Homo sapiens: one gene and its partner. The gene in region 1 interacts genetically with each later gene. Each region holds a gene or a part of one and is shown on either strand. Other genes may lie near its edges. The genes, in order: CMAS and PPP2R2A.

Region 1 (3,831 bases):
GAAATTAAAGTTTCAACCCAGCCCAACTCCTAATTGAATCAAAGTGATCAGCCCCTTATCCTATCTTCCTGATAGAAGAAAAGGTGTACCCTCTCTGGAGGAAAATATGTACTCAAGTGTCTATGCCAGATATACAATTAAACATGAGCCAAATGAAGAGGCAGAAATAGGTGACTCACAATCAAGAAAGAAGCAGATTACAGAACTGTAAGTGACTAGATGTTGAAATTTGCAATCAAGGACTTTCAAATAGCTATCAAAAATATGTTAAATTAGAGGAAATGACCTTTTTTTAAAATGGATAAAAAAATGGAAAATTTCAACAGAAAATGGAATCCCTACGAAACAACTAAAATGTACATTACTGAATGGAAAAACACAGTGTTTATAATAATTCTCTGGATAAGATTTATAGCACACTGGACATGGCAGGCAAAATGCCTAGTAAACCCTAGGGAACCCTTCTTATATATGGAGTTAGGAATTTGGGGAAGAACTTCAAAATGTCATTCTTGAAATCCTTCAGAACACTTTGGTGGATGCTTTCTATCTCTATATGACTTGTATGGAGTTCATCAAACATGTCTAGAACAAACATAAAAGTATTTGATCTAGAAAAACAGCATATCTGCCTCAAAAGGCAAACAGAAATAAGAGGATTAGAATGTCCCTTTGTAAAGAGTAAAGCAAAGAATTAATTTGGTCTAGCTGTGTTGGCTCGATAACAGATTTACAGCTGATTGTAAATGTCATTACCTACTAAAGTAATGAGTCAAATACTCTCTTTTACAGCTCCCCTTTTACTCTCCTCATGCCTAAAGGATATTTATATACAAAAAAATTGATTCTCAATAAAATCAGCTAAAATAAAGACTGAAAAGAGATTACCTCCTTTCTGAATTTCACTCCATCGAAACTGATGGCGTCTCACAACAGAGAAAACAGAATCATATCCTTCTTCTCGAATCATTTCTGCAACTTTTTGAAGATCAGTAGGATGTAAACATGGAGAAGTAGCTTGAATATTTCCTACAATGTCAACCTCTTAAAAAGACAAGAGAAATGAAAAGGATATTTAAAAAAAAAGTTCCTTGCAAGCAAGTAATATTAAGGTTTGGAATTCAAATGTTAAAACAAGTCTTATAAGATAATAAAGGAAGTAGAAAAGTACATAAAGGTTTGAATAAACTATTAATCAAATTCATACCATTATGATAATTAAGAAATTCTATGATGGCATCTAGTGAGGTAGAGCTGTCTTTTGAAACTTCAGAACTTCTTCGATGAACTTGTGCACCAAATTGTTTGGCCACATTCTCAATTTCATCATGGTCTGTCGAAACCCATACACTGTTCAGATATCAAAAGAAATTAACAGCCAAATCAAAAGAAATCATTAACAATAAAATGGAGCTCTGTAACCATAAAATACAGCTTATATAATGTGAGAATATTTTTTGCACAATGATAATAATGTTACAGATCCAAAGGAGTATAAAATGTAAGAAATTATAAAGTATTTTGTATATAAATATATTAATGAATAAAAATGCAGTCCTAGATATGCTTTATATAAAGAAAGGAACAACAGACACTGGGGCCTACTTGAGGGTAGAGGGTGGGAGGAGGGTGAGGATCAAAAAACTACCTATCAGGTACTATGCTTACTACCTGAATGACGAAATAATCTGTACACCGAACCCCTGCAACATGCAACTTACCTCTGTAACAAGCCTGATGTACCCCTGAACCTAAAATAAACGTTTTTAAAAAGGCACTAGAAGTCAAATCTAAAGAAAATTAAAGATCTTGCTTATTCTCCATCCAAATCCAAAATATTGTATAAAATATTTTAATATGCTTGCTAAAAAAAAAAAAATGGACTTGGCTTAGCCAAACCCTAAAGGTGAAACAGTTTCAAGCTTAGAAGATAATAAATGCCCAAGTCTGGGCTCAAAAAAAATCAGATGAAACAACTCTTTCTTTTTTAAACAACAAACAATGGGTATATAGATGTAGAATCAGCTGGGTTATAGCCATTGATAACAACAAACATGAAGAACATGACTTCATTAGCTCAAAAGAATTTAACTTAATACTCTATTAACCGCAGGTTACACAGTTGCCTATTTAGCCTTTACAAAATGATGAGTAGGCAAAATGCTGTTTTGGAGAGGGGTACCAGTTTCTATTGAAGTTTTGTTTCCTGGACAGTCACAAATTCCCACTGCTAAATGCAGAAGATGTAAATACTACTCTAGCCACAATGTTTGGTCAGGCCTGGAGTCTCACACCTGTAATCCCAACACTTTGGGAAGCCGAGGCGGGTGGATCACCTGAGGTCACGAGATGGAGACCAGCCTGGCCAACACGGTGAAACCCGGACTCTACTAAACATACAAAAATTAGCTGGGCATGGTGATGCACACCTGTAATCCCAGCTACTAGGGAGGCTGAGACAGGAGGATCGCTTGAACCTGGGAGGCAGAGGTTGCAGTGAGCCGAGATCGCGCCACTGCACTCCAGCCTGAGAGACACAGCGAGACCCTGTCTCAAAAAAAAAGACAAAAAACAACAACAAAACCCTGCCATGTTTTTTTGTTTTGTTTTGTTTTGTTTTGAGACGGAGTCTCGCTGTGTCTCCCAGGTTGGAGTGCAGTGGCGCGATCTCGGCTCACTGCAAGCTCCGCCTCCCAGGTTCATGCCATTCTCCTGCCTCAGCCTCCCAAGTAGCTGGGACTACAGGCGCCCGCCAACACGCCCGGCTAATTTTTTGTATTTTTAGTAGAAACGGGGTTTCACCGTGTTAGCCAAGATGGTCTCGATCTCCTGACCTCGTGATCCGCCCGTCTCGGCCTCCCAAAGTGCTAGGATTACAGGCGTGAGCCACCGTGCCCGGCCCCCACCATGTTTTAATAGTGATTTATGCAAAGATATCTTAATGACTTATAGTCTTTGGTGTATGTGTGTGTATATATATATATATATTTGGTGTGTATATATATATATACACACACAAACATATATACACATTATTTTATATACATACAAAATTATATATAACGTGTATATATAATGTGTATATATAATGTGTATATGTGTGTGTGTATATGTATACATATACACACACACATATATATTTTTCCTTTTATCCCACTCTTTCGATATCTACTGAGGGAAAGATGAACTGCATGTTTTGTTTGTTTTTTTGACAGAGTCTTGCTCTGTCACCCAGGCTGGAGTACAGTGGCCCATTATCTGCTCACTGCAACCTCCACCTCCCAGGTTCAAGCGATTCTCATGCCTTAGGCTCCTGAGTAGCTGGGATTAGATTACAGGCATGTGTCACCACGCCCGACCAATTTTTAGTAAAGATGGGGTTTTGCCATGTTGGCCAGGATGGTCTCAAACTCCTGACCTCAAGTGACCCTCCCACCTCAGCCTCCCAAAATGCTAGGATTACAGGTGTAAGCCACCACGCTCGGCTGAACTGCATGTTTGTCTATGCTCAATTATCATGAGTGGAAAGAAAGTGAAAAACTAAAGAAAATCTTCTAACATCCCTGGATTTCATTTATTTATTTCGTTTATTCCCTTTAATATTTATAGAGGGATTTAAATCAAGGGATAAAGTCAGTAAGAAAAAATAATCAAAGAAAGCCTAGCAAACAAGATGAGCCACTGGCTAGGGGTCAAGAATCCCGTGATATCTACTTATGTCACTCTATGCAGGGCGAACGCAGGAGCCCCCATTTTCCTCCATCTTGAAATCTGAAATAGTGGGAAAAAAATGTTCTCTTGGGAAATGTCATAGTCAAAGGTATATAACAA
Region 2 (3,831 bases), on another chromosome or scaffold:
GATGTCAGTTCTTGATTCTCTTATCAGCCAGCCACTACTGTTTATCCGTGTCCACTACATCAAACAGAAGAGAATGAAGTACACAGCCTGGAACAGGGTGAGGGACAGCACAAACCTGTGCTAGGCCCTAGACTGCAGTGTTGAAATCACTTAACTCTAATTTATACATATACTTTCTTTATGTTATATATTCTCAATAGACTGGGAAGTATGTTTCTCAAACTTTAAATCCTCTGACAAACATAAACGAAGATTGTTTTTGATACGTGAAATTTCAAAATAAATACTGCACTGAAACAAAAGACAAAATACTGCTTTGCTTTTCAAAGTATAGTTCACTATTGAGCAACATGGATTTGAACTGCATGGGTTCACTCATACACAGATTTTTTGTTTTGTTTTGTTCAACCAATGCACATTTGAAAATACAATATTTGAGGGATGCAAACCCCTCAAATATATGGAGGGCCAAAACTTCACGTGTGGGTTCCGCAGGGCTAACTGCAGATTTGGGTATACCTGGGGTTCTTGGAACCCATCCCTCGTGTATACTGAAAAAAGACTTCTATTTGTGTAACTGCCAAGATTGATATATCTCCTAGTTACCCTCACCATCATTTCATTCCCATTGAGAAGAATTGATTTGAAGCTTAGCTTCATACTGATGTATAGTGAGAAACTCTATAATGTGCATTCTAAAATGTTGCTAAATTATGATAATCTACCTAATTTTACCTGATTTGCTACTTTTCTACTTATAAACAGTTGGAGTAGTGATTAAAAGTAGTCACATTATAGGCAAATGTATCATATATAGATAAAACTATTTTTATTGAATTTGTACCAGCATCTTGCCAAGTTTTGTGTGATTGAAGGGTATTTTTTTCTTACTGATTTTTTTGTGTTACATGCTCACTTTTGATCCTAACCCCACATGAGTTGCTATTCCTCTGTATTACAGATTTTCACTTAATGTCACAGAGACATGGCCTGAATCATTCCACTATATTTAAAGTTAAAATAGACACTGAAAATAAGTTTAGATTGTTTCATATAGAATAGAGAATTCTAAGCATTTAGAAGGTACCTTCTCATTTCTGTCATTTCTCCTTAAGTAGCTCCTTAAAAAGAGATGGTGAAATATAGACACTTCCTTTTTTCCTTTGAGTTACAACAAATACTTTGGAACTTTTGTTTGTAATTAATATTAATGTTGAAATATGTCATATTTCTCAGACTTTTTAAATATGAGATTTCTAGTTTATCCTTTTTTGACATATTAGTAAATACAGAATTATATAATTCAAAAAACAGGCACAGCTTTGTTAGCTTTTGACATTGTATAATATGATACTATCAAATTTTTAATAATATATGCCCAGAATAACCATATAATTTATCACCAAACCAAGGCATGGTTACGCTATGCATACATGTGCATTTATAATGGAAAATATAGGCTTCAGTTAAATTTATGCCCAGAAAATGGTATTTAAGAAAGAAATAGGCACAGTTTCAGTGTTGTTATCAGTAGTTAATGGACTGAAAGCCAAGAATAGTGATATTCAGATATTGCTATAATGTTCTTTTATTAGTCTCTTAACTGTGCCATTTTCAAGTGTTTTTGGCCTGAATGTTTTATTCAGGCTTATAAAGGCTATGTGTGCCATGCCCAGAATGGAGTTTTCCTTTGTCATACCAGTAGGAAAATGTACCTCCCTGAAGGGCTTGTGTGTTTTGTAAAAGGACAAAATGCCTTTATTGTTACTGAGAAGATTGAGATTAATAGGTTTAAAAGGTGTGTGTATGTGTCTGTATATGCCCTTTTTTTCTTTTTAAAGATATGGACTTGTTAAATCATTTTCCTAATTTCAGTGCAGTATATTTGTATTTTTCCCCCAGGTGCATGAATACCTCAGAAGTAAACTCTGTTCACTGTATGAAAATGACTGCATATTTGACAAATTTGAATGTTGTTGGAATGGATCTGACAGGTAATTAAGTCAAACCTCTCAAATATGAATTTTATTAAAGAAAAGAAACAACTATTTCATTCCAGGTCCTAACTTCGTCTCTAGGGATTCCTTGAAATAAATTTAGTAATTTTAGATATAGCACAGCAGTACTGGTAGATAAAAAATTAAAGCATTGTATTTCACTAGTAAATATAAAAGTACACAAATTCTAGGTAATCTAAATTATTTAAATGTCTAGAATTTTTTTTCTTTTATGAACCAGATCACATTTCTGACATGCTAACCATTAAAACGGTGAAGCTTCAGCTTGGTTGTTATTCTTCCATTAAACTGTTGCAGAAACATTCAGGCGGCAGATAACTCATTTGGATTGTTAGAAACACCAGGTTTTCCAGATGCTACATTAACACCTCATAGAAGTGGTCTTTCATATGTATGTTATGTATGATGTTAACCATAATATATATGGTTAAAATTTTAGTAGTAGTTATCCTTTGCTTTTTATAATTTCCAGTTTTGCCGTAGTGTAATTCCTTTTTCGTATTCATTTTTAGTAAAATGTTACCCATTATTTAAAGATAAAATAAGTCTTACTTTGAGTCTTTTAGTTGTCTATTTGCCACTATGTTCCAGTAGAACAGAAAGTAGTAAAACATAATTTTGGAATTAAACTGACATTTAAAGTAATCAGAGATACTTCAACAACAGTTTTATCACAGAGCTTAATATGATTCCGATTTCATGGTGTTGTGTGTTACAGAGGATAATAGAACTTATAGAATGTTTTCTTTCATCTGGCTTTTAAAATTATCTGATTTTTGACATAAGGACTAGTAAACCTAGAGTTCTGTTAATAGCAAACATTGCCTTTGAGTGCTACTACTAAACCTGAGGCATCAAGAAGAAAGAAGGAAAGGGAAGAAGAAAAAAAAGATTAACAAATTTGAAGAGTAAAGAGATACTGAAATAAGGTGTGGCGCACAGCTACAACCAGTTTTTCATTGTATTTAAGCAGATAATTAGCAGTTTTATGTTCTATTATCAGAAAAAAACGATTTGTTTTCCTTAATATTAAAAATTTTTTTTTAACTATTTCAAACTTAGAGAAAATTTGTTAGAATAACACAAAGAACTCTTGGCTGGCCTTGACCCAGGTTCCCCTGTCGCTGTTTGCTGTATCACGTGTTCTATTCTCTGTTTATTTATAGCTATATTTGTCCACATAGGTACGTGCGCATGTGCTCACATGCAACTTGTGTGCCACATGGGAATTTATTCCATTTACGCCAGATGTGATGCCCATAACCCTAAATTCTTGAATGAGTATTTCCTGACAAAAACACTTTCCAACATAGTGACAGTGCAGCATCCAAAGCAACATTCACAGCGATGCAGTACTGCCATCTAATCCGGAGACCCACTGAAACTGACCAGTTACTGTAACTATGTCCTTTATGGCACAGAACAAAGTCAGTCTGGTTCAGTATCCAGCATTTAGTTGTCATCTCTTGTTAGTCTCCTTTATTCTGAAACAGTTCCTCAGTCTCTCCTTGTCTTTCATGACCTTGGCATTTTGAAGAACACAGGCCAGTTATTTTATAGAATGTTTCCTCATGATTAGATTCAGGCTATACATTTTTGGCAGGAATACCACAGAAATGCTGGCCTAATGATACCTTTTTAAAGTTTCAAGTAGCCACAGCCTAGGTGTCCTAATACATTAAAACCACGCAAACTCAGATGATATGGGGATGTCAATCTAAATTACACAAGCCATTTTTAAAGAAATACAGTTTTGTCATCTTCAGGGGCACGCATTACCTTGAGTTTGATTAAAGTTGTTGCCAAGTGTCCT

What was found.
Region 2: changes in CMAS (region 1) and PPP2R2A together harm fitness less than expected from each alone (positive genetic interaction), as found in Homo sapiens cells (one large-scale study listed by BioGRID).

What each region holds. Positions count from the first base shown.
Region 1 is NC_000012.12:22,052,668-22,056,498, reverse strand, and holds part of CMAS (N-acylneuraminate cytidylyltransferase), read right to left. Parts: intron 1,351-3,831; coding exon 1,208-1,350; intron 1,045-1,207; coding exon 889-1,044; intron 1-888. UniProt on the Homo sapiens protein: Catalyzes the activation of N-acetylneuraminic acid (NeuNAc) to cytidine 5'-monophosphate N-acetylneuraminic acid (CMP-NeuNAc), a substrate required for the addition of sialic acid.
Region 2 is NC_000008.11:26,364,413-26,368,243, forward strand, and holds part of PPP2R2A (serine/threonine-protein phosphatase 2A 55 kDa regulatory subunit B alpha isoform), read left to right. Parts: intron 1-1,902; coding exon 1,903-1,994; intron 1,995-3,831. UniProt on the Homo sapiens protein: Substrate-recognition subunit of protein phosphatase 2A (PP2A) that plays a key role in cell cycle by controlling mitosis entry and exit. Involved in chromosome clustering during late mitosis by mediating dephosphorylation of MKI67.